Linked DNA regions of Homo sapiens: region 1 is linked to region 2. Evidence: fine-mapped expression QTL. A gene starts in region 2. The other region holds a variant in brackets. All regions are shown on one strand. Distances are between the middles of the regions. Region 1 overlaps LOC100506207 (a long non-coding RNA gene). Region 2 holds the start of SLC35B3 (solute carrier family 35 member B3).

Evidence for each region. PIP is the estimated chance that this variant, and not a neighbour inherited with it, causes the effect.
Region 1: its variant is fine-mapped to the expression of SLC35B3 in stomach (GTEx, PIP 0.97).

Annotation. Positions count from the first base shown.
Region 1 is chr6:8,753,961-8,766,958 of GRCh38, forward strand. All of the region lies in intron 3 of LOC100506207 (a long non-coding RNA gene), which reads left to right. Among named protein-coding and RNA genes, the nearest start is that of HULC, 110 kb to the left of the region's middle. RefSeq lists an enhancer at 8,068-8,237 and a cis regulatory region at 8,153. The variant A/C (reference allele first, on the strand shown) is at 7,018.
Region 2 is chr6:8,429,070-8,442,067 of GRCh38, forward strand. It overlaps SLC35B3 (solute carrier family 35 member B3), which reads right to left and starts at 6,476. Exons shown (of 10, transcript NM_001370479.2): 1 at 6,274-6,476; 2 at 795-1,088. The coding sequence starts at 995. It overlaps LOC100506207 (a long non-coding RNA gene), which reads left to right and starts at 6,554. Exons shown (of 5, transcript NR_038980.1): 1 at 6,554-7,109; 2 at 8,871-8,962. RefSeq lists enhancers at 3,484-3,653, 6,104-6,243, 6,216-6,757, 6,254-6,313, 6,514-6,683 and 2 more.

The DNA.
Region 1 (12,998 bases), 320 kb after region 2:
GATTTATTATGATAAATTTATAAAAAATAAACCTATAATATAATAAATATATTTTTTGCCCTATTGATGTTTTGTTTATTTGCTTTATATTCTGTCTTAAAGATGAAATAATAGAAGACACTTTGCCTGTGGAATTTCAGTTTTCTCCATTTTCTTATTCCTCTATTTACAACCTTTCAATTTTTTTCCCCAAAGAACATAGCTTTTATTTTCATTATGTACTCTTTTGTCTTCCTCAACATTTTGTTGATTCTTTTCTTCCAAAGTTTTGAAATCATTACTGTTACTCCTAGGAAAAACATAAAAAGTCATTAGATACAGAATTTGTGTGATTTGTCTTTTTTATGCCTTAAATCATCAGAGGGAGAATACTCCAGCAGCCCAGGGCATTATGGTTTTATTTCTTGCTAGATTATTTAACTTCTTGTGTCTTTATCATTTTTTTAAGTTACTACAACACTTACTGTTTTTTTATCCATTCATAAAATAAAAGCAACTGAACATCTTATCTCTCTCTCTCTCTCTCTCTCTCTCTCTCTCTCTCTCTCTATATATATATATATATATATATACACATACACACAGTTATATGATACATAAGTTTATATATGCTACATAGTGAAAATGAGGAATGAACATTTATAGGCAGAAATAGAATAAAAGAGGAAAGAATGGAAGTCAAAAAGAGATGTGCTAAAGGTCACCAAAGTAATATGGAGAATTCATTCAGATCAAAGAAAGTTGGGAGTTATTTGACAGTGTTTAATATGAAGCAGCTGCATTGGAGAGTCTTCTGTAATAATTTATTCTTCTTTTGACTTGCAGAGTACTGAGCTGTCTCCGAAGAATTCAGATTATTGAATGTAGGCACCCTTTTCTGATTTCCTTCATCAATTCAATTCAGGAGATGTGATGCAATGTGATGTGTCAATGTATGTATGATCGAAGTGTCAGTCTCTATAAGTACTCCGCTCCATGATCCTGGGGTGAAGTGCTACAAAACACATTTTTGGTGGAGCAGAAATAGTGCTGCCTTTCCTGTGCTTCCCACGGCTGTTGTAGATAGAAAGCAATGAATTCAGAATTCTCAAGTCGGCCAGGCCATCTTCTCAGTGAGCTTTGCCTCAGGCACCCTAGATATTACCACATGAGAGCTATATTTCATCTGTTCTTAAATTTTTGCAGCTAAAGGACCACATTTGAGGGTCGAAATCCCTGCCACAAAACCAACCTTACCACCTTCTACTACTCATAAGAAAAATCCATCAGAATTTACTGGAATTTATTGCAAGAATGACCTTCCATTTCATGAGTTGACAATGATGTGAAGCCTGGTTTTATCAACTATCCAAGTAAAGTAGTAACTTCAAGTCTTTAATAGTACACAAGAATCATTTACAGGTCAAGTATGGAACCTCTAATTATGAAAAACTGATTCTCAGAGCATATTTTACCAGATATTGTGAGAAACAGAGAAAAAGCAGTTAACAATGAAAGTAATTACTGGCCTTCAAATTCATTATTAACAGCAAGTCAAATTGAAAAGGTACTGGTTCTGTTCTCTGTCATTGACGTGAGAGAATATGGTAGAAGTAAGCGGAGAAAGAGACTTGGAGGCCATCTGCTCAGGCCCTTTCACTTTTCTTCAGAAGCAAAGTTGTTAATTGCTCAAGGCCTTCAAGATCCCCACATTCCGTCTCTTTCCGTAGAACATACATGTGCCAGTATCCAGATTTCTTCACATATTCTTCTTTCCATGTCTCCCATTTCAAAGAAGTGTTCCTTCTCAGGTGTAAAGAGTGAGGCTAATTGCCCTGTCTTTTCCCGCTAACTCAGCTCTTCCTGAAACAAGTACCTTTCCTCATTTCTGTAATTTTTCTTCTGCTTGCCATAAAAGGAAATCAAGTTGCATACCATTCAAATCTCCCATCAGCTTTGTGATCTTTGGAAATGTTTTTTTCACATTTTCTAATAGAAAATTTCATATACAGTATGTACGAAATGGAGTGAAATGATAAGGTCCCATTTATACGACACTCAACTTCAATAGTTTCTAACTCATAGTAATCTTGTTTCATCTATACTTGCACTCGCTGCCATTCTGTCAGATAATTTTAAAACAAATATCAGATATTATATCATTCTCTAGTATTTATCACTAACATTTAAGAGCTATTTTATTAAACATAAGAGTAATGTCAGGGTCTGGGGTGTTGGCTCACGTCTGTAATCTCAGCATTTTGGGAAGTCGAGGCAGGCAGATCACTTGAGGTTAGGAGTTCGAGACCAGCCTGGCTAATACAGTGAAACCCTGTCTCTACTAAGAATCCAAAAATTAGCCAGGCATGGTGGCGTATGCCTGTGGTCCCAGCTACTTGGAGGCTGACATGGGAGGATGGTTTAAGCCCAGGAGGTGGAGGTTGCAGTGAGCTGAGATCGCACCACTGCACTCCAGCATGAGTGACAGAACTAGACTCTGTCTAAAATTTTTTTAAAAAGTAATGTCGTTATCACATGTAAAAATTAACAATGATGCTTTAATACCATCAAATAGCTAGTCAGTGTTTATATCTTCTCAATTGTCTCAGATAATTTGTTAAAAGTGTTGAATCAAGATTCAAATAAGACCATAGTTTGCCATCAGTTGATGTATCTCTTAAGTCTCCTCTCTCCTTCTGCAATATTTGTTGAAAAATCTGTGTCGAGACGGGCGGATCACGAGGTCAGGAGATCGAGACCATCCTGGCTAATACGGTGAAACCCCGTCTCTACTAAAAATACAAAAAAATTAGCCGGGCGTGGTGGTGGGCGCCTGTAGTCCCAGCTACTCGGGAGGCTGAGGCAGGAGAGTGGCGTGAACACGGGTGGCGGAGCTTGCAATGAGCCGAGATGGCGCCACTGCACTCCAGCCTGGGCAACGGAGCGAGACTCCATCTCAAAAAAAAAAAAGAAAAAGAAAAAGAAAAAGAAAAATCTGTGTCATTTGTTGTGTGGGTTCCCTACCGTCTGGATTTTGCTGGTTGATTTCTGTGAACTCTGTACTTCCTGCACTTTTATAGTTGAATCTGGAGGCTGGATTATATTTGCTGTTTTTAGCAAGAACTATTTTTGGACAAGGTCTCATATTTCAGTTAGTAGGTGAATAATGTCTGGTTGTCTCTCTTGTGATGTTGGAGTCAGTTGCCCAGATCCAGTGGCAACAACTGTGGGTAGAGCCAGTGGGAGTGGCCTGTTCTGGGTGCAGGCAATAAGGGGTGCTTTGCCCACAGTAATCTGAATCCTAAAGAGAATTTTAAAACAATATTGAAACTAACTAAAAGCTGGTATATTTTTATTATTACTAAGGTTGCTAATTCTAAATAATGTCTCTGAAAAAGAAAATCTTCTGTTGGACTAAGTTCTAAATAATTGCTGTGGTTACTGCTGAGTTTTAATAATATGTATCTTGGCTTCAATTTCACACATTTTTATTATGTATTCTTTAATAAACCTGCTATTCTACATAGAAGTAAATTCAGAGAAGTCCAGTTACACAGTTGGCTTCACACACGAGAATTGGGCTAAATGTTTTAATTTTGAGACTAAGTTCGCAAAACTTTGGATTCATTAGAGCTTGTGCTGGGTGTAGTCTGTGTCTCCAATCCCTCTGGTGCTACATCGTCCTGTGCTTAATTCTAAATCAATAATCATATCAGTGTCACTGTAAAGAGGAATACACAGAACACAAGTTACTTTAATTCCATCAATTCTGTCATTTTGTTAAACCGCTTGAAGTTATTTGTTCTTAAATGTTAAAAGACTGAAACAAAATATGAATCGCAAGGTGTAATAGCTTTGTTTGGTAAATGCAAATTTTAGTTCATATGTAAAGTCTTATTGTATTTAATTTACATGTTTAAAATGGAAATTTATTCTTATATTAATTGGAATACTAAAAATATGTATGAAGAGGAAGGCAGGATAAATGCTTGAGTCTTTCTCTTTATTTAATAGTTTTCAAAATAATTGGTTGGTTCCATATCATCATCCTCCAGAGATATCCAACTAGTTCTTTTTGTATTGTTAAGAACACATTTGTTTAAATATATCTGATGCCTTTGGCAACACCTTAAGCCAATTGCAGTCAGATTTAGTTATTATCCTATCAATGCCTCAAAAGTCTCTTTGGCTAATATAGGAGTCTGTTCAAGTTAGCTCCTGAGTTTTCTTGACACGCCCTTAAAAGTCTTTGGTAGCTTTCTTTGTAATGTACAAAATATTTCAGGCTCATTTTGCACATTTCTTGCTCTAGGCTTGGTATCAGTCATTTCTCAGAAGAAAACTGGTTTCTTTTAGTGCAAAATAGTGTTGGGCACTAATGGTGCTTGTTGCTACCTAATAGTTTCTAGGCATTTTCAGTAGATTGTGCTAGGTAAACAATTCTAAGGTAAAATGCATAATAAGTTTATACTGATCTTTCCTAATCAAATTCAGGATTCTGAATTTTTACCTGCCCTCATTCAATATTATATCTCCAAGTCACAGTGAAAATTCCAGTTCTCAATAATGCCAACATACTTAATTGACGTATTACATAATCCATGCATAACAGTCTCAGAATAGCAATACCAATACTACCGCTCACACTATGCTTAGCAAAAACAGATTTTTTTCGTGGTTATATTTGCCCACAGGATCTCTCGCACTAGGGATGTGTAGTCATATACTATGTCTTAAAGTCACTTGAAAAAATCCCCCTTTTTCTATTGGTGTCAATTTGACACATATTTAAATTAACTTATTTTATTTGGCTTTGGATATTACAAATTACTTTTTAACATTTAATTTTGGTTTATGATTATGTGAACTATTTACCTATTTACGTGGTTCCAAAGTAAATTCTACAGAGCAAGGTATATTCAGAGAGGTCTAGCTTCTACCCCTGTATCTTTCTATGCCTGTTTCCACTACCTTTCACCTTTAGATGTCCTTTTAAAAAAATTCTGGTTTGTCTTTTCATTTTCAATGTAAGAAAATATTGGTTCATGCTTTCATTTCAACACATAAAAATATAAACAATAGCATATGAAACACAGTTTTCTGTCCCTTGGACATGTTTCTTAAAGTCTCTCATTGTATCAGGTCATTGATACCTACTTTGAGACCTTCAGTCTGTACTAAATGAAACTGTGTATGACATGCTTGCTACCGTAGGCACACATGGGATTGTTCATTTTTATTTCTCTCTGAAATCGATCAATCCAGATACTCCCTACATCTAAAAGACCTCCTGCGCTCAAACAGCTCTGCTTCACACTTCCAAACTTTGTGAAAGTTTGCCAACTGAATTTTCAGCCTCAGTCTTTCTCACTGATGCTGCATCTTACAATTGGTGAGAAACAATCACATTTTCCTAAAACCTTAGTTAAGAACATAAAAAGATATTAAATTCATCTTAGAGTGTTGTTCTAGTGTATTTGGGTTTGCCTGAACATTTTTATGCACAAAATGGGGTAAAACATATTTGAACGTCAGATCCCATTTTTAACGTAAGGTATTCATAGGAACAGAGATCCCAACTTGAGCTTCCGAAACTTCTTAAGACTTTGGACTATTGAAACATCTGAAGACTTCAAACTTTTAAGTGAAAACTTGAAATGGGAGATTTGAGGCATTCTCATTATTGGTGGATCATAGAACTACCAAATGGATATAAGGATATATTCACTTATGTAGTTTGTTCCACACATTTTCCAAAATCATGAGGTGGGTGAAAGTATAGATAATTTTAAAAAAATGTCCTGCTGGGCATGTCTAGGAACTACTGTCTCTTAATAAGTCTCTCCTCCTCTTTGGCAGAGATAACAACAATTTGCTCTTCTCAACTCCTTTTGCCAGCACAGGGGAACAAATGACATGATATTTACTCTGCATCTGATAGCCTATCACTTTACAAAACAATGTTTGAGCCTGGGTGCAGTGGCTCACACCTGTAATCCCAGCACTCTGGGAGGCTGAGGTGAGTGGATCACCTGAGGTCAGGAGTTTGAGATCAGCCTGGCCAACATGGCAAAACCCCATCTCTACTAAAAATACAAAAATTAGCCAGGCATGGTGGTGCACGCCTGTAGTCTCAGCTACTAGGGAGGCTGAGGCACGAGAATTGGTTGAACCCGGGAGGCAGAGGTTGCAGAGAGCCCAGATGGCACCACTGCACTCCAGCCTGGGTGACACAGCAAGACTCTGTCTCAACAAACAAACAAACAAACAAAAAACAATGTTTGAGTACAACTCTAGGCCAAAGACCACCTATTCTTGGTAATGACAACTGTCTAATAATTGTTCAGCTGGTACCAACAATGCTGAGAGGGCATGGTGTGATGACATGCACTTCATGCCCAAGTAACTAAATTTGTCAACATATTCGATGCTTACAGGACACAGGACTGGGCTGTGGCCCTTGGCGAGCCTCCCAAGCTATTCAGTGATGTTAGACAACCCACTTACCTTCTCTGAAATTTACTTTTCTTATATGTAAAATGCAGCTATTGTACAGGTAAGTCAGATTTCTTCCAGCCCTAAAATTCTGCGACTCTTGGTCTAGCATGAGCCTAACTAACATCAGTGGATGATTATATAAGTGTAAACTGTGTGTAAACTGTAATAGAATCCTCTTTTTTCTCACAAGATCACTTTGATTTCAGATTTATAAGTATTTTTCTATTTGGAAAGGGACTTTAGAGGTGGGGTGTACAGATACTCATATTTTTTAGCCTAATGTGTTGGAGAGAAGGAACTATTAAACAAACTATTAAGAAGGAGGTAAAAGTGAGTCGAACAAATTAGATTTTTTAGATTGAATTATGAATTTGAAAACTCTGGTGCTCTTAAATATTCAGATCCATGAAGTTACTCTTTTACATGGGGACAATGAAATTTTCTGAAATTACATGGAAAATATTGTACAGAAAGGCAAAAACCGGAAGCATTTATTGAGCAGTTACGTGCTGCATACTTTCAAATGAATTCACTCATTTA[A/C]ACCTTACAGAAACTCTGTGTTAAGTATTACCATTCTTGTTTCTAATGTCAAACTCAGTTATGTTAGTTACTTCTCCCAATATCACACAGCTTCTAAGGAATTAGGCAGTGACTGGACTTCAAAGGGTTGTTAGAAGTTAATATGTTAAAGGAGCTTAGAAGAGTATTCAGTACCTACTGTGCACTGTGACTTGACCTATTCTCTTCCTCCTCTTCCTCCTCCTCCCTCTCCTCCCCTTCCTGTTTCTCTTCTTCTTCCTCTTCCTCTTCTTCTTGTTCTTCTTCTTCTTCTTCCCCAGAAGTTCATTAAATTTACTTGGTGAGAGCACAGTGATCTCGGGTTTGGGGGCTGGGTTGCCTGCATTTAAATACACACACTGCTGTCTAGGTGAAGGGCAGAGTGCAAACTGCTTTAACTATGCAATCTGTAAAAAACTTGAACAACACGTGGCATACGCTGCATATACAGTAAATATAAACTCTTACTATTAACATAGTTCTTTTACGTATTGGTTTTACGGAAATAATTCTTTAAAAGCTACCATTCATGGTGCTATTATAAATAGGCTAGATAGTACAATAGATGCTAGTTAGGGTAGAAGATATTGATAACACTCATTTTATTGGTCGTATTATTTGGTATAACAGAGTACAAAATGATTTCTCCTGTTGTCTTCATCCTTAGAGACTTGAAGTCAGTTTAAGTCAGTCTTAAGTCACTGATTTTTAAAAGTAATTCTTCTGACATCTAGTCTCGATGATGATTTTTAAAAGGTCAATTCTAAATATGTTCTATTTTTTTCTCAGCAAGTGCTTATTTTTCTACTTTGAAGTCAGGAGATAATATATAGTTGAAATGTGATACCCTTAATCTCTTAATTTTTAGACATCTACCTGCCCATTTATTCTATTGTTGCCTCACCAAGCACTCAGAATTGCTTTACACAGCAGGAACAAAATCAACCTTGGAATCACACATCTAGTATTGAAGTGACATTCTGCCACTTGTTACCTGTGTGATCTTGGAAAATTTGCTTAATTCTGCTGAGCCTCAACATTCTCTAGTGAAAAATTAGATGGACAATGCCTTCCTTCAGTTTGGCTGACTAATCCACAAATGTAGGCAGGGCAATAAGTCTGTTTTCTTCCCAGAATATGGTGCAAGCATGGCCACGCACAAAGTGTGTCTGGATTGGTGTTTAGCTGCATGTGTCTTGGCCCATGCTTTTGTCCTGTCTAAAGTAAGAATATCTTAGACTATAGAGCTGGAAATGGCCTTAGACCTCATCCTGTCCAAGTTTCTTATTTAACAGATGAGAAAATTTTGGTCCAGACAGGGTAAAAGAGACATGCCTCAAAATCGAATCAGTTAAACTATAATGCGTCATATTGTTTGTGCCTTTATTTTTCACTTTATCCTTTCCTTCCTATTTCACAATAAAAATGAGTACCCTCACTTATCTATCTTTAGAAAATTACCTTTCTCTGACATTCAATATTCAAGAAAGGTATATATTTTTTGTAATCCACTTTTTTCTTCTTACAGCGTATCTTGGGATATTGAAAATACCCCATTTTTGCAAATAAATCTATAAATTTAAAGAAGTGTCAATCTAAATCTCCAGAATATACTTTATGGAACTTTGTAAGTCAATCATAAAGATGAGGTGAGGGAAAGAAACCATAGTAATGGCCAAGAAAAATTTTAAAGGAGGAGTGAAGGAGAACTTTTTCTACAGACATCAAAATGTAATATAAAACTATAGTAAATCAAATTATGTGGTTTTTGGCACTGGCATAGACTAATAGATCAATAGAATAGACTAGATTCCAGGAAAAAAACTACAACTGTAATAAAAATAGCATTTTAAGTCAGTGGGAAGTCATTTAATAAATGATATTGGGATAATTGGATATACACATGGATAAGAAAGAATGAAACTAAAATTGGTCTTATGCATATGTAATGAATATTGCAATCTCATGTGCTTTTAAAATACCCTGTGGGGTATGCGTGTGTGTATGTGTGTGTGTGTGTGTGTGTGTGTGTGTATAAAATGTCAGGGAAAGAAATCATTAGAGTGAAGGAAAGAGGCTAAGATAATTTTTAATTTTTTGACTCTTTGTAAGTCTGTGTTTTTAATATTTTTAATTTTCCTATCACTTTTGTGATTATAAAATAAAGATTTCAAGTACAAAAATCACTTCATTACATTGTACATTTTCTAAAAAATTTCAGCAAGCTGTGTATGTGTGTGTATTTGTTGTAAACCAAATCGTAATTTGAATTAAAGTGGGGGAACTACACTTTATTGGAATTAGAGGGCTTCCTTTCAAAAACGTGAGCATTCCCTAGTCTCCCCAGTTCTTAGGTTTAGAATTTGGTGCATCTGGTTTTCTTTAATTTTGCTTATTTCTACTAACCCTTGAAATCTGGGTACCATGATGGAGATTAACCATGTCATGCTGACTTCTGAAAGATCAGGTTTATCCTAGACCCCATTACCTTCCTCTGCTTAAGCTTTTGTTGAGGAAATTTTTCCGCAGCTGAAATGAGGTTTGAAGGCTTGAAGAACAGTGATTTCCATGTGACCTAGTGTAGCTTGGAAGAATGAAGTTCTGATTTGGAAATAGAATCATTTCCTATTGTGGTAGGTTAGTAAACTTGGAATAACAAGTATATGTTAAATAAATATAATTAAACAATAGTAAACATTAAATTTAAAGACTATTTTTAATGCTCCATTTGTATGAACTCACTTAATCCTTACAATAGCTGTGAGGCTGTTTCACTCATGAGGAAACTACAGCACAGAGAGGTTGGTAACTTGCCTGAATTCACAGAGTTAATAAGGATTGGTACCAGGATTGATGTTCAGGTCATCTTGTTCCTAAGTCTATTCCCTAATCACAGCCAATGATGCAATGAATATTCTTGTGTATGTTTTCTTACATTCACATGTAGAAGGTTTTTCCAAGTGTGGCATTCTTGGCTGTAGGTTATACCCATCTTCAGCTTTACTAGCTATTGACAATTTCTTCTCTTTCTCCATATCCTAGCACTTTTAAGTAACTTTTAATATTGGTCAGTCTGATGAGTGTGAAGAGTTAGATCATTGTGTTTTAAATATTCATTTCATTTATAACAAGAGAGTTTGAAATGTTTGCACTGGGTTTTGTCCATAGATTTGTAAGATTTTTTTTATTCTGAATACTAAATCGTATTTTCTATATAAACATCCTTGGGCACTTTGTTCTGTTTCTCTGCTCTGTTTCCCTAGCCCTGCACTAATATACATTGTCATAGTTACATGAGTTTTTCCTCTTTTACCTCCCCTTCCTCCTGGTCCTTCTAAAACATTGTGTATCTGATAGGATGAATCCCTTACCCTTTTTGCCTTCAAAATAGAATTGATCATTTGTAGCCTTTTAGCTCTTTCGTATAAACATTAAGATAAGGTTGTCAAGTTCTAGGAAAAAATTCTGTTGCATTGAATATATGGATTAACTTAGGAAGTTAGTTATGCTGATTCTATCCAGCCTGCTCTTTCTGAAAATGGTGTAGTAAAATCAGTTGCTGAAGCTTTAATGGTTAATGAATCTTACTGGCTTTCCTGTGACTGGTTGCGAAAAGGGATTAACAGTTTCTAAAGTAACTACTTATGAGCATGACCTCTATCATATGTCAAGTGCTATGGCTAAAGTCTTACAAAATTTATTGTTGTTTGTGTTGTTTTAATAAATATTGAGGTATTTCTAGATTGTGTTTTGTATTAATGTGATTGTTGCTGTTTCACTGAAGTAATATAGATGTTAGAGATACATGGAGTCACATTTGTACACTGATAACCACCATTTTTTACCCAAGACTGAGTATTTGGGATTCTTTAATGCCTTATTTGGCTCTAATTCATAAAGCTTAGGGTGATTGCGAGTCCAGGCCCTGCTGAGCTGGGGCCAAGTGTTGAAATGAATGTTCCAAGCACTTGATGGTGTTGAATGATTCTAACTTAGAGATTGGAATGGAATTTTAGTGTATCTATTTTAAATTTCTTCAGGTTTAATATACAATCTAAAATTATGACAATTCAATCAGATATAGTCTCAGATAAACAAGTTTAAAAAACCAGACAAAAATCTCTGGAGGAGTTTATATAACTTGGCTCTGCTGCCTTCAAAATCCTTGTAAATAAGAAACCAAAATTCTGGGGTTGATACTTTTTCTTTAGAGTTATGAACATCCCATTTTTGGAGAAACAAAGGTTACCATAGATATTTCAATTGTTAGTATTATACATATCACCACTTTTTCTTTAGTTAATCTTGGGCCACGCTTTCTGAAACAGCCTCTCCCACATGCCAAGTATTGTATTTGACCTTTTCATGTCAATTATCTACTTTGTTCTTCACAGCAATCTTATAGACTGCATATTGATTCCAAATTTATAGATGGAAAAATATGGTTGAGAGGAGTTTCCTAAAGTATAATAGCTAGAAACAACAAAGTTGGGTTTCAAACATGGTTCTATCAAATTCAGGTCTGTATTATTTTCTGTCATCCCATTCATTCTCCCAGTGCCTGGGAACTGGATAAGAAAAAATAAAAATGACAAATCTATACTTTATTTTTGAATAGGTGCTAACTCCTAAAATTCAGAAGAGCTCTTTCTTAAGTGTACCAGTGATAGCCCAACTCAATATTGACTATTCTGCTGATTTTGTTAATTTGCTCAGAAGCCTAAATTACCTGCTAATAAAAGAAATAATATTGCACAACTGGACATTCCTAATGTTAGTTACATCTGGAGGTGATCTCATTAAACATTACAGATTTGGCTGTGTGTCTTGGGGGCTTTCTGAAATCCTAACTTTTTGCATCCTTGCCCTACAGGCACAGTTCATAAGCTCTAAATACATAGCCAGATTAGCCATAGCCATGACAAACAGGAACCTTTCCATTTAGGTTTTTCTCTATATTTTATTTGAACTTTGGAAACAGAAGCAAGTAGATTTGAAAATAAGATGTTTTAGGGGTAGAATTGTCCTAGTTTCTGTATTAAATGTTAAAATAACTAAAGACTGTAGACCCAAGAGATTTAAAGATGTTGTTTAATTTTCTAGTAGTAGAAGAAATGATTAACAGACCAACACTCTTTCAAAAGTTGATATAACACTTACATGAAAGAACCAGAGAAAATATTGGAAAGGATGGTGCCAGTTCAAGGGGCTTCAAGAACAAACTATCTCTCCATGTAGAAACTTTTCAGTGGTTGACTGTAAGGAAGGACACCAAAGAAACAGAAGAAGACAAATCCATGCTGACACGTTCTGCTGCTCCTGCATCCAGCTACAGGGGCTAAGGGCTTAGGGTGACTTTAATGCAAATTATGGTCCAATTTTGCAATTCCATTTTCACTTGAAAAATATAAACTGAGAAAGTGTCAAGATTCTTGTCCTAAGAAGTCTTCTTTAGAGTGAAAAAGGAACCGTACTGGGTATTGGTGGTACTAGTGCTAATCCAGACCATCTCTGGCTCACTATGTGACATAGGCAAGCCTATGGCTTGGTTCTTCTGTGGTCCCTGAGTTAAGGACTACTAGTGAAACTGCCTTACAGTTCAAAAAATGTCTCTATACGGGATCTCTAAGGTTTTTTTTTCCAACTCCAAACCTTTGTGAATCTCAGCCTGACTGGGTGCTAGGATAGGATTAACAAGAAATTAATAACCCTAGCTAGTAGTTTCAAATTGTAAAATCATAAAACATCTCTATGAAATGAACCTTATGCAATAGTACATATCTCACAAAACACTAGAAAGTATAATTGGCTCTCTTTATCCAGAAACAAAGGGCAGACTTAAATAGACTAGAAAGATTTAGACTCATATACCAAATACTAGCTAAGTTCAACTTCTTCTTCTTTCACATAAATACTGTATGACCTTAGAGGAACCATTTAGTGTTTCTTTATTTGTTTCCTGT
Region 2 (12,998 bases):
CTGTGTTTTAAGAAAATACATCATTTTCCTTTCCTTGAATTACAAAGGTTTTCTCAAGTTATGGGAAAATATCCACTAATTAAATGACCATTCATAAAATTAGAACCCATTCCAACATCCTGTTTTCACTAGCCTGGATCCTCACCCATCCAGCCCATGTCTTTGAAGGTCAGAAATCTGCTCCTAGCCAAAGGTATATAACTTTTCCAAATATAATGTAAATATAAGACAAATTGTTGCAGTATCAGAAATGTTTTGTGCCAGCAAAAAATCACAGAACAATAAGATTCTGGCAAAGTTAGAAGACAAAACCAATAAGAATGAGAATATAAGAGGTGTTTAAAAAAGAAATAATTCAAATATTATAGGATTAAAGAGATACCTTTAGAAAACCATAAAATATCCTGATACATTTTTGCAAAAATGATCTTTTATTATTGAGCTCCAAGAATCAAGTAAACTGCACTATCATTCAATAATATTCCAAGATACCAATCAATACGTGAATCATTGCTTTCTCTTGGAAGCACACATTTTGTTAAATATTTAAAACTTAATTTTCATAATGAAAATTTTTCAAGATAGTCTCTACATATGCCTCCTCCCCACTTAAATTATTTAACTCTTGAATTTTGATCTGTTAAGAAGCTCTTTTCTACTCTATACTAAAAAATTCAAATTTATGAATCAGCCAGTATCCCCTAAGTGACTATCTTGGGCAAAACTAGTAAATGCCCATACTGACCGCAATTATTATAAATAATTAACATATTACAAACATATAACTTTTTTACCTGTAAATACCCATAAATTAGGTAAAATACAAAAACTCCAGCAACACATATGAAAAACTGAGTAAGTTTGTTAAACTTGCTGAGATTCATGCCAAGTACCACAACGTCGTCAACTGACTTGATGTGTGGTGACATTGTTTGGGTTTTGGATGGCACAGTGATAGAAATATATTTCCTGGAATTGTTGAACTTGAGATCCATTGTTATTTTGCTGCATTCAATGCTTTCAGAGTTATTTTTGTTGGTTTCCTGGACTGTTATGTTCTGTATGTCTTTTGCTTGCTGTGTCAAGTCCTAGAGAAGGAAATAAGCAATTAAAACATTTACATGATAAAGTTTAATCCTCCAAATAATATTCCAAATCATACTTTAAAGTTATACAAATGTCTGCTTCTCTCTGGATATTAGTATATTAATTCCTGTATTCTAGGTTCCAAATCACCAAAAACAATATGCCTACAATCTTTAAACAATTTGTCTACAGCTGATAAAGATTAGTACATCATTAAACTGAATATAAACCATACTTATTTCCACAGCAACAAAAGCTAGTTATTTCATCAAAGAACTAAACATGTCTTTGTGTCTATATATAGTTGATGCATAACATTCTCAACATTAAAGTCAATCTTCACTTGTAGAGGAGTAAAAAATAAGTAATTCTCCTTTAAATACTAAGACAATTCTAAGATATATTTGCTAATGACATTTAAAAAATAAACTAAAAAAATGAAGGCCAGGTGTGGTGGCTCATGCCTGTAATCCCAACATTTTGGGAGGCTGAAGCAGAGAGGTTGCTTGAGACCAGGAGTTCAAGACCAGCCTGGGCAACATAGCAAGACCCTCTCTCTACCAAATAAAATAAAATAAAATAAAATAAAAAAATTAGCTGGACATGGTGGTGCATGCCTGTAGTCCTAGCTACTTGGGAGGCTGAGGCAGGATGATCACTTGAGTCCAGGAGTTTGAGGCTGCAGTAATCTATGATTGCACCCCTGCACTCCAGCCTGGGCGACAGAGCCAGACCCTGTCTCTAGAAAATAAATGAAAAAAACAAAACAAAGAAACCCCAAACCTAAGGTCCTTAAAAAGCTAGATTTATCAGAGACTACAGAAAGCACAATATGCTTCAGCAGTAGCATCTCTTAGGTTAAAAAATGTTTTCTTCCTCTGGAACAAATCATTTTAATTTACATTCTTCTGGGATGTAAAAGGCTGGAGAAAACATGTCATTTTTTGTCAGTCTAAAAAAAATTATGAAGCCATCAATTTCTCTTTGGATTTATATAAACTGAAAAAATGAACTCCATGTAAAGACTGAGGAAAGACTGAAGAATTATGACAAAGTATAGAATAAACCTATGTAAAAGAAAAAGTTATTTTCTTAGAAACGACTCATCTGTTTTTAATTCCAGTGGGAACAAAAATTTAAACTCTGCGGCACGAAGAGAAATAAGAATAATTTTGACAGTGAGTTTTCCTTTGGTAATGTTTTTTTAAACTGTTACAAGATGGCTTAAAATGGCCAAAATTAGAGTCGCCTCTTCATGATCACTTCTAGTTTGCTAATTTACAGAGGTTAACCAGGTCATCCTTAGGAATTAAAGGAGGGGTCAAGGATCTGAATACCACTTGTAACTAAAAATATGCAGCCACCACAACATTTTATAGGGCACCTGCCTTATTTCTAAATAGAAAAGTTGTTTCATGAAGTTTACTGTGTTCCTCTTGTTTATTCTTCACTTTCCTTTGTTCTTGCTTCCCACATTATGTTTCAATCACTGTCATTTGTAAGACTTTTTATGTAATCTTGCAGGGTATCTTTGAGATGTGACTTTCTTTTAAAACCATGCTTTAAATTATCTCTCCTAAATATTTGGTCAAACCTGTGCTTGAATGTAGAAGAGACGAAAACCTTAACAATTTACTCTTTTCTATGTGTGAGCATGGATATAGTGCACCATTCAAATAAACCCGGCCTTACATAGGTTTCTAAGTTTGCTCTCCCTCCACTCTCAATAAAGCCCTAAACCACCCATGTTTCATTCCTGAAATACACCAGGGACTTTAAAACACCGCTGCCTTCTGTTCATGATGTCCTTTCAGCCTGAGGTCTTCTTTCTCAAGGTCAGGTTTGGAAGTTCAGCTTTAATATCCCCTCCTTTGTGACACCATCACTAATCCCCCCAGTTATTAGAAAAGAGAACTTGAAAGGCAAGATTCAAATCTTATTTGTCTCTGTGTCCTTGGTACCTGGCATATACTCTGACCTGATATTCAGATGAACCAAATAAACTGATCCTTCCTCTTGATACCCTCAAACTTCAGCTTGCAATCACTCACCTTCTGCTTGGATACGATTTTTGAAATGGATGGTGGTACTGGCAAACTTTATGAGCAAAACTGAAAATCTTATAGAAAAAGAGTGGGGAAAATTTACAAATAATGCTTACATATTTACACATACATACAGAATAAATAAAACTTCTAGAAAATATCTTTCTTTCCTGCTTTTATTGGCATCAAAACATTTCTCCAGAAGGTCACGCTTTCCCAAAGTCACCTTCTTCTGAGATGTTTGTAATTTAGTAAACTGCCAAGCATATTGTAATGACTCAATACAATTATAGGTAATAGTATAAGAAAGCAGTATAGCATAATGCTTTCCCCATGCTTTGGAATTTTGACAGATATGAGTTCAAGATCTGGCTTTACTACTTATTAGCTGAGGAGCCTTGGGCAAATCGTTTAACTTTTCTGAGCTTTAGGTTCTGCACCTTCAAAAGTGGGAGGAGTTAAAAATGTGCCTATCACAGGATTTTGGTTAGGACTATATGAAATAAATGTAAAATTGCCTGGCATATGACAGTCCATAAGTGTGTTAGCTGTCATCCTTCAACTTTTTAGAAATATTGCTAGGGTGATATGGTGTGCTCAAGCTGACTCACCCCTTTGATGTGCAGCTGGAAATACAGACCTGAATTTCCAACGCTGCCTTCTCTCCTGAGATCCAGAGCTCTACGTCTAAATGCTTCTTTGATACCTCTACTCATAAGCTCTGCTGGCACTTCATATTTAAAATGGCCAAAGCTGATTATTTTCCCCTCAAAACAAATCTACTGTTTGTTCCTATATTCCCAATCTCACTTAACAGTACCTAGTATGAAACACAAGCTAAAAATCTGGGAGTCATCTTAAGAATCTTTCCTTTTCCTCACATTCTATATTTTGCCAAGATTCCTGTTAACTCTACCTCTATAACTATATCTAATATCTGTTTCGGACCCTACTCCATCAGGCAGCCATTTTCTCTTGCCTAGATTACGAGACTGTTTATAATCAATTCTTCCCTTTCTGACCCATCTGTCACATGGCTCAACGTGAAGTCTGATCATGCTGCATCCATGAATAAGGCCTCGAAGTTAAAAACGAGTTGATGTCCTGGACTCAATCATATTATACATATTTTTCAAATTCCTAAATGATAATGGTATAGCTTTTTCGTTTTTATACTTGTTTCTCCTAAAAGCCTATGAAATCCTTAAGGCAAGAGATATCTTCCTATGATGTTCTGGCACATAACAAAAATGTAAGATTAAATGAAGGACTCTACCACAGTTTAGCAAGCACCATTTATTTAATCAACGTTATTCAGCTCCTTTCCAACACTTTACCACTTCTAATACACTTCTTGGCAACTTTATGTGCTGCAGATCTAGGCCATATGTGCAGAATGAAATCTCTCTAGCACTGTCTTTTCTACATGTATGCCAAAATACCGACATTGCTACTGAAACTCCCCACAAAACATTTGAAATGAACATGAAAATAAATTTGTTTCCTCTGCCTGAGGCATCAGTCTCATAAAACTTGCCCACCAAAGCCTTGCATTTAGAATGCTGTTTTATTAATAAGAACATCACTGGTGAGAAAGTGTGACTGATAAAGACCTCTGATACCTAATAACTGTGATCATTGGGGAATGTCTGCCATATCCCTTCCACTTCAAACATTAATGACTGATACTAACCATCATCTAAAAAAAAAAATGGGCCAAACTCCTTGTGATGCAAGGAGCAAAAATGAAGCATGGAATTAAAATTAGTTTTCAGACTAAATGATCAACATTGTGCTTTGCTTTTGAAGCTCACAGTAATCAGTGAAACTAAAATATATATATATATATTTTAAAAATCACAGGTGTGTATAATTGCCTGAGGCCTCTTCCTAAATTCAACACAGATATTCAACTTCAACTGCTAAAATGGAATAAAAAGGTAGCATTTCCGGCATACAATGTATATTTAAAAATTAAAATTAGTGATAATGTTGAGTTACAATGACCTATTGAAGTCACAATTATTTCAGTTTATTTTTGAGTTTTCCGACCTGAAGGACAAAAGTCCCACACCAAAAAAAGGTAGAATATGAAAAAAAAGTCATTACGGTGTCATTAACCTGAAAAAACGTGATTTTAACTATACTTTGCCACACTCAACGTTACAAATAAAAGAATCTTACCATGCCATTATGCCTTGATTAACTGCGCTCCGGAATCAATCATGGCCTATGGTGTACGATTATAAAACAGAAAAAACAAAGTTCCATCTCATTTCTTTGTACACACATCATTACACAAAGGTGGAGAAACCCTGTGCTAATGTTTGAAGACTATTCTTTTTTTTTTCCAAGAGAAAAAGTTAACACTAGGACTTTATATATTAAGTAATTAAGTAAAAATAACGCTGTCTAAATTATTTTGAAATGCTGCCTCTCTTCCAAGTTCCAAACTATCTCAATTCACTTAGAAAAACGTTTAATCAAAAAACAATTCTAGGCTTCTGATATCCTAATGTAGAAAAAATGCAGATACTCAACACTTAAGATTTTGTTAGCGCACCAAATCATTCCATCTTTTACTTTCAATATTCCTTAAATAATAAAAAGACGGGAGAGATAATTCAGTTGCAAAGACTGGAGGAAACTTGCAGAACTTCTAGTGGAAGTTTATGCCATAAACTTAATAGCCCAGCCAGAACAATCACATTCTACTGCAAGCCAAATGGAGAAAAGAGTACCTTGGAGTGCCCCTATTTAATAAACACGGAACGAGGAAACAGTTAACTGTAAATACAGTCTAGAGGTATCCAGGTGACTGACAGTTCTCCAGAGACCCCGAGAACAGCGTAAAAGACCCCTTGAGGTCACCTCACCCCTGCGAGTCCACGGATTGGGACCTGAGGGAGTTCTCGCCAGCCCGAGGGCGAAAAACGGGCGAGGAGGAACAGATGCTCCTCCCTGGAAACCGCCCGGCCGGTTTCCGCTCTTTCAAAAAAGGGAATCACCCGTTTCTTCCATCCCGACCTCATCCATTCCTCGAACGCTCCTTCTGGATGAGGAAGATGGGCAGTGTCAAGGTTTTCTGGAGGAGAGGAGATCTGGGTCCCAAACACAGGAAAGGCCCCGAAGGCACGCGTACCCCAAGGCCGGTATGTCACCCGGAAGGGTGACGGCAGCCTGCGTGGCGTCTGAGCTAGACGGAGCATCTCCCCCTCCCCTGGTCCGTCGCCATCACCTCCTCTTCCTCCTCCTCCTCGCCCACTCCTGCACTTTCCACCGCGGCGGTCGCCTCCCCGGAAAGCACTCTCAACTCCGGCGCCCGCAGGCCACTTCCGCCTATGTGTCCCTGCGCGCGTGCGCAGACGCGTGGCCCCGCCTCCCGACAGGCCTGTGTGGCCGGTGGCGGGCGGGCCGTTACCTCCCGCGCATGCTCTATGGGGTAGAGACGCTAGGCCGGCACTGCCTAGGTGGGCCGGGCGGTGCGAGGGTCGCCTTTCAGCCTTTACCTCTACCCACTGAAATGGAGTAGGTCGGTGAGCGCCGATCTGCTGGAGAATCTCATTATCCCATCGGCGCTCTGCCTGCTCCTGGCCTCCAAGCCTCTGAAGCCCCTCGGGTTTCAGCTGCCGGCTACCCTCGAGCCCGTGGTGCCCACGAGAGAGGCGACTTTACGTCAGCGGCCCTGGGCTGAGATTTGAGAACGCGACCAAGTGGAGAATGTTGGAGCCAGATTTTAAAATCCTTGTCTTCCTTCTGCGTGCTACTTGATCTAAATGAGATACGGCAAAGTCACAGAACCTGTTTTTATGTTTTTGCCTGATTCATACGGGCTTCTCCGGTGAAGATGGGCCTGAAGTAACGCTTGGGTTGCTTCTGACGTTATAACTCATCCTGTAGCTGCAGCAACCGTGGTCCTTGCAACCTCATAAAAATGTTGCCAGCATTGTTTCGATAGTGCTGCTTAATTCTTGGAAGGTAAATCTCAAAGCTTGAGGACCAGCCATCAAAACTTTTGTAAAAGGTTTTCCCCGCGTTTAGGGCCTCATCCATCACCACTGAGATGTAATAACGTAAAAACCAAGACGGTTTGGGGATGAGCTGTTTTCAGAGAATAATTAAGGAAAATATTACTGTAACGAAGATGGACAATTTTTGAAAGCATGCCTTGAATACCAGAAAGGGATGAATTGGATTAATATGTATGTTAGAATCCAGTCAGTTATGGACAACTTTTAAAATTTTACAGGCACTCTTCAGAAAGGGTAGCATTTGTGTCTTGTATTGGGATCGAGGGTTTGTAAGAAAGCAAGGCACCTACTTTGGTGGTGAGAAAAAAAGGTCTGGGTAGACATTTTCGTTTAATACTTGCCAACGTTGTTAGGCTGGTGTTAGCAACACTTAGGAATGTTGGAATTAAGGCTTAGAGAACTTAAATTTCCTAAAGAGATAGTAAATGACAAAACCTTTCAGTGATGCCATATCGTCACTGTATAATGTGAATTTAGTACTACTGTTAGCCATTTATATGGTGGTTATTTATCAAGTATTTATTAAATGGGCATATGTATAGCTCATATCGTAAACTATGCGTATGAGCTCCCTGTCCTGAAGAAATTAGGGGTTTCCATGAGAAAGTAAATGGCAGTATAAAACAACTTAAGGTACAAGAGGTGTTACAAGGTACCATCTGCTCATGCCTGGACAATTGCAGTAGCCGTGAGCATAGCTTTCTGCATTCCCTTTATTTCTCTACATAGTTGCATTCAGCAGCTGGAGTGATCCCATTAGAACCTGAATATGCCACTCCTCTGTGCAGAACCTTTTAGCGGTTTACCATTTTACTCAGATTAAAGTTCAAAATTCTTACCCTGACTTTTAAGACTGAACTTATTCTTGATGGATCACATCCAAGCTACACTTCAGAGCTTTTCTAATTGCCCCCAAGCACAGCAAGCATCAGTGCTTTGTAGCTGTTGTTCCTTCTGCATGGAACACTGCCCTCTCAGATGTCCACAGAGCTTGCTTCCTCATTTTTTTCCAGTCACTGCTCAAATGTCACCTGGCTCTTCTCTGACTACCATGTCAGTGAAATATTTTTACATGTCAAATGTGAAATGTAGGAGAGACTATCTGGAGTAGTACTTATTATAGAGTAGGTGTTTAATAAATATCGACTCTCTTACAATACTTCCCATTTACTCCTGTGATAACCACGTGGTAAACAAAATTAAAGACTTGCAGCTATGAATTGTTTTTTATTGACTGATTGACTGATTGAGGCAGAGGCTCACTCTGTCGCTCAGGCTGGAGTGCAGTGGCACATCTCAGCTCACTGCAACCTCTGCCTCCTGGGTTCAAGCCATTCTCCTGTCTCAGCCTCCCGAGTAGCTGGGATTATAGGCGCCTGTCACCATGCCCGGCTAATTTTTGTATTTTTAGTAGAGATGGGGTTTCACCTTATTGACCAGGCTGGTCTCGAACTCCTGACCCCAAGTGATCCACCCACCTCAGCCTCCCAAAGTGCTAGGATTATAAGCGTGAGCCACTGCGCCTGGTCCTATGAATTGGTTTTAAATTTTTAAGAAATTAATAATTCTGTAGTATCAGAAACCTTTGGTGTCTTGATTCACATCTTCTGAGCATCACCTCTCATTTCTGACTTGGTTGTGGGGGGCAGTTTCATGCAATCTTACACATTCTTCTCCCTGACAGCTTCTCCTCTCCCACATTTACCAGGCCTCTTTGCTTTCTTCCCTGAGGTTCTTCGGACTTCACACATTCCAGCAGTAGCTCTCTCAGCTCCTGTCCTGCACAGCTTTGAAGTGCTGGTAAGTCAACACATCTGGGGCCCTTCAACCAAGGGGTGACAGTCACTGATGGATAAATGCTCTTGCTTCTTACACTTGAGCAAGATAGTTTTGTAGGCCATTCTGTGTGTTTTTCAAAAAGTCCCAGTGAAATTGGGTTCTGGTTTCTCACAACAGCAACTTCAATAACACATTCTTGTATTATGTCTATATTCTCCCTTCCATTCTCTCATTGTTTCTCACTAGGATCACATCCCAAATTACCTGTCCCCACATAAGTAGTTGTCTCAGGTTTTGAGGGAAACCAAGCTAAGAAATTTGATGTAAGAAGAAAGTCTAGAATGCAGCTCCTCAGAACTCTGGAAGTGGGTTACTTTGCAGTCAGATGACAACAAGGACTTTCTTAGTGATATTAAGGGGAGGACATGTGCATGGCCCAACAATTAAGGCTCTTTCTTACTAAAGCCGATATGACTACTGCCTCTTTGGATGTCCAGCCCATCAGCAGCAAAGATTGATGGTAAATTCCATAAGGAGAGCAATTACACAAAAGTCCTTCCTTCCTGGAGAGAGCCGTGGTTTGTACTTACGGAACTGACACTTCCCTTGATATGACTGGTCTTGTTCATGGTGCCTCTGCCAGTACCATTATATAACAGAGTTACAAACACATGATTGATTGACTTCCTTCCTTCCTTCCTTCCTTCCTTTCTTTCTTTCTTTTTTCTTTCTTTCTTTCTTTCTTTCTTTCTTTCTTTCTTTCTTTCTTTCTTTCCTTCTTTTTTTCTTTCTTTTTCTTTCTTCCTTCCTTCCTTTTTCTTTTTCTTTCTTTCTCTTTCTCTTCCTTCCTTCCTTTTTCTTTTTCTTTCTTTCTCTTCCTTCCTTTTTCTTTCTTTCTTTCTCTCTTTCCTTTCTCTCTCTCTTTTCCTTCTTTCTTTTCTTTTTTCTTCCTTCCTTTCTTTTTTCTTTCTTTCCCTTCCTTCCCTCCATCTCCTCCCTCCCTCCCTCCCTTCCTTCCTTCCTCTTTCTTTCTCTCTTTCCCTCCCTCCCTCCCTCCCTTCCTTCCTTCCTTTCTTCCTTCTTTGACACAGAGTCTCACTCTGTTGCCCAGGCTGGAATGCAGTGGCACAACCTCTGCCTCCCAGGTTCAAGCCATTCTCCTGCCTCAGCCTCCCCAGTAGCTGGGATTACAGGTGCCTGCCACTACACCTGGCTAATTTTTTTGTATTTTTGGTAGAGACACGGTTTCACCATGTTGGCCAGGCTGGTTGTGAACTCCTGACCTCAAGTGATCTGCCCACCTCAGCCTCCTAAAGTGGTGCAATTACAAGCGTGAGCCACCACACCCAGCCCAAACACATGATTTTCTGATGTATTGCCTCCAACTAAAGGACACACTTTATGGTAAAAGAGGTGTGACAATGACACACGACCATGGAATTCCACTGGTCCTACCATATATTGTATCAACTGGAGGAAATTGGCCTGATAGAACACTGACATTGTTTTGTGAACATCAGCAAGTATCCTTTTCAGGAACAGTGCTCAGATAGGGTTGAGATGCCGTCACTCCTGACACACACACACACACACACACACACACACACACACACACACACCTGGCCCTTGGGAAGTTTGGTGGCATTAACACCCCCAGGCAATGATCCACCAATGGGGAATGGGCACCTATGGATAAATGCCTTCCATTTCCTAGGAGCAATTTTTGGGAGGTGTTTTTATGTATTTTAGGATGTCCTAGATAATCAAGTCATGTGACTTGGGGGAGCGAGAAAGAGAAACCAGCAGTGGAGACTTAGAAGAAGCAGCTGTTGACATAGGATGGGTCCAGGAATGTACAGTCTTCTAAAAGCCAGGTGAAGACAATGTTTAAAGGAGGAAGGAGTGATCAACAATGTCAGTTCGTGTCAATTGGTGTTACTTAGTCATGTGTCTGTGAAGAATCATCTTGCATAGTTAAGTCTCAGGTTCTAGTGTCAGATTAAATTTAAATCCTTGCACCACCCCTTGCTCTTTGAGTGTCTTTGTGCAAATTGCTTAAATTCTCTAAGTCTCAATCTCCCCATCTGTGAAATGGGAATGACAGTAGTACCTATGTGGTAAATTGTAGTGATGAGTAAGTGAAAGATGTTTAAAGATGGTTAAATGGTTAGCACAACACCTATTACCTGACAAACACTTAGTAAAAGTTAGCTATTAATATTCTTATTAATATAGCCTACTATCATTAGAATAATCCATTTATATATAGTCATCAGTTGTCACTTTTCTAGCTCTTCCATAAGGAATAGGTTATATAGCATTTCCAAACTAGGAAGTTCATTGATAGATATATGGTTCCAGATGCACTGAGCAGAAAAACTAGTTAATTTGATTTTCATTAAATATCCATTTAATAAATACTTATTGAGCACTTACTCTGCATGCTACTGGGTATTGTGGATATGTGGATGACAAGACAGACATGGATCCCTGCCCTCACAAAGCTCACAGCCTTGTGTGGTGGAGATAATTAATTACACAAGTAATTATAGTGTGATTTGTGTTGATAAGGGTATTAACTACAGGATGCAATGGGAGCTATAGGCTATGCTAATGAGGCTGTGGTTATAGATTCAGTTCCCCTGTAGGTTGCTTGACTTCCAGGGCTATCAGTTTTTCTCTGCTGTCTCCTAAATGGATAGAGGTTCACAGAACTGGGCCACCTGGACACCAGCCATGACTCCTCTTCTTTCCCAGTACTGATAATTGGCATGGGGCAAAATTCTTCATAAAGAGGTAGCATGTGTAATGAGATGGAGAAATATTTTGCTCGTTTAACACCTGGCTTTTGAATCCCTTTTTGGTCAAAGTTTCTGTGTTTTGTTTTCTTTTTGTAAGAAGTAATTCGATTAGCCTCTTAGAAGATTATTCTTAAACTGCCTTCCATGGAGGGTTAGTCTTATTAACATGAAGTTCTTTTTATTTCCAGAACAGTGCTGTCCAATAGGAATATAATATAAGCCATGGAAGCTACTTTAAATTTTCTGCTAGTTACATTAAAAAGGTGAAATGAGGCCGGGTGTGGTGGCTCATGCCTCTAATCCCAGCACTTTGGGAGGCCAAGGCAGGCGAATCACTTGAGGTCAGGAGTTCAAGACCAGCCTGGCCAACATGGTGAAACCCCATCTCTACTAAAAATAAAAAAAAATTAACAGGGCGTGGTGGCGGGCACCTGTAATCCCAGCTGCTCAGGAGGCTGAGGCAGGAGAATGGCTTGAACCAGCGAGGCAGAGGTTCCAGTGAGCTGAGATCATGCCACTGCAGTCCAGCCTGGGCAACAGAGTGAGTCTCTGTCTCAAAAAAAAAAAAAAAAAAGGTGATATTAATTTTAATAATATATTTATTTAACTCAATATAACCAAAATATTATCATTTCAACATGCAATCAATATAAAAAGTTGTTAATGAAATACTTTAACATCTGTTTTTTTATACAAAATCTTGGAAATCCAGTGTGTATTTCACACTTCCAGCATATTTTGGTTTGGACCAGCCACATTTCAAGTGCTCAGAGTAGCACATATGACTACTATCTACCACTCAGGACAATGGAATTTTAGAGCACTTTAATTCTTGTTCACCACTTGGAAGGTGATGAAGTTTAAAGTGCTAGAGAAAATCCAGGCTGGGCGCAGTGGCTCACATTGCCTGTAATCCCAGTACTTTGGAAGGTCAAGGCAGGCAGATCTCTTGATTCCAGGAGTTCAAGACCAGTCTGGGTAACATGGCAAAACCCTGCCTCTAGAAAACAAACAAACAAACAAAACAAAAATAAAATCAGCTGAGTGTGGTGATGCATGCCCATAGTCCCAGCTACTCAGGAGGCTGAGGTGGGAGGATCCCTTGAGCTTGGGAGGCGGAGGTTGCAGTGATCCCAGATCACACCACTGCACTCCAGCCTGGGTGACAGAGTGAGACCTGTCTCAAAAAAAAAAAAAAGAAAAAAGAAGGAAAGAAAGAAAGAACAAACAAATGAAGGAGGGAGAGAATAAAGGGA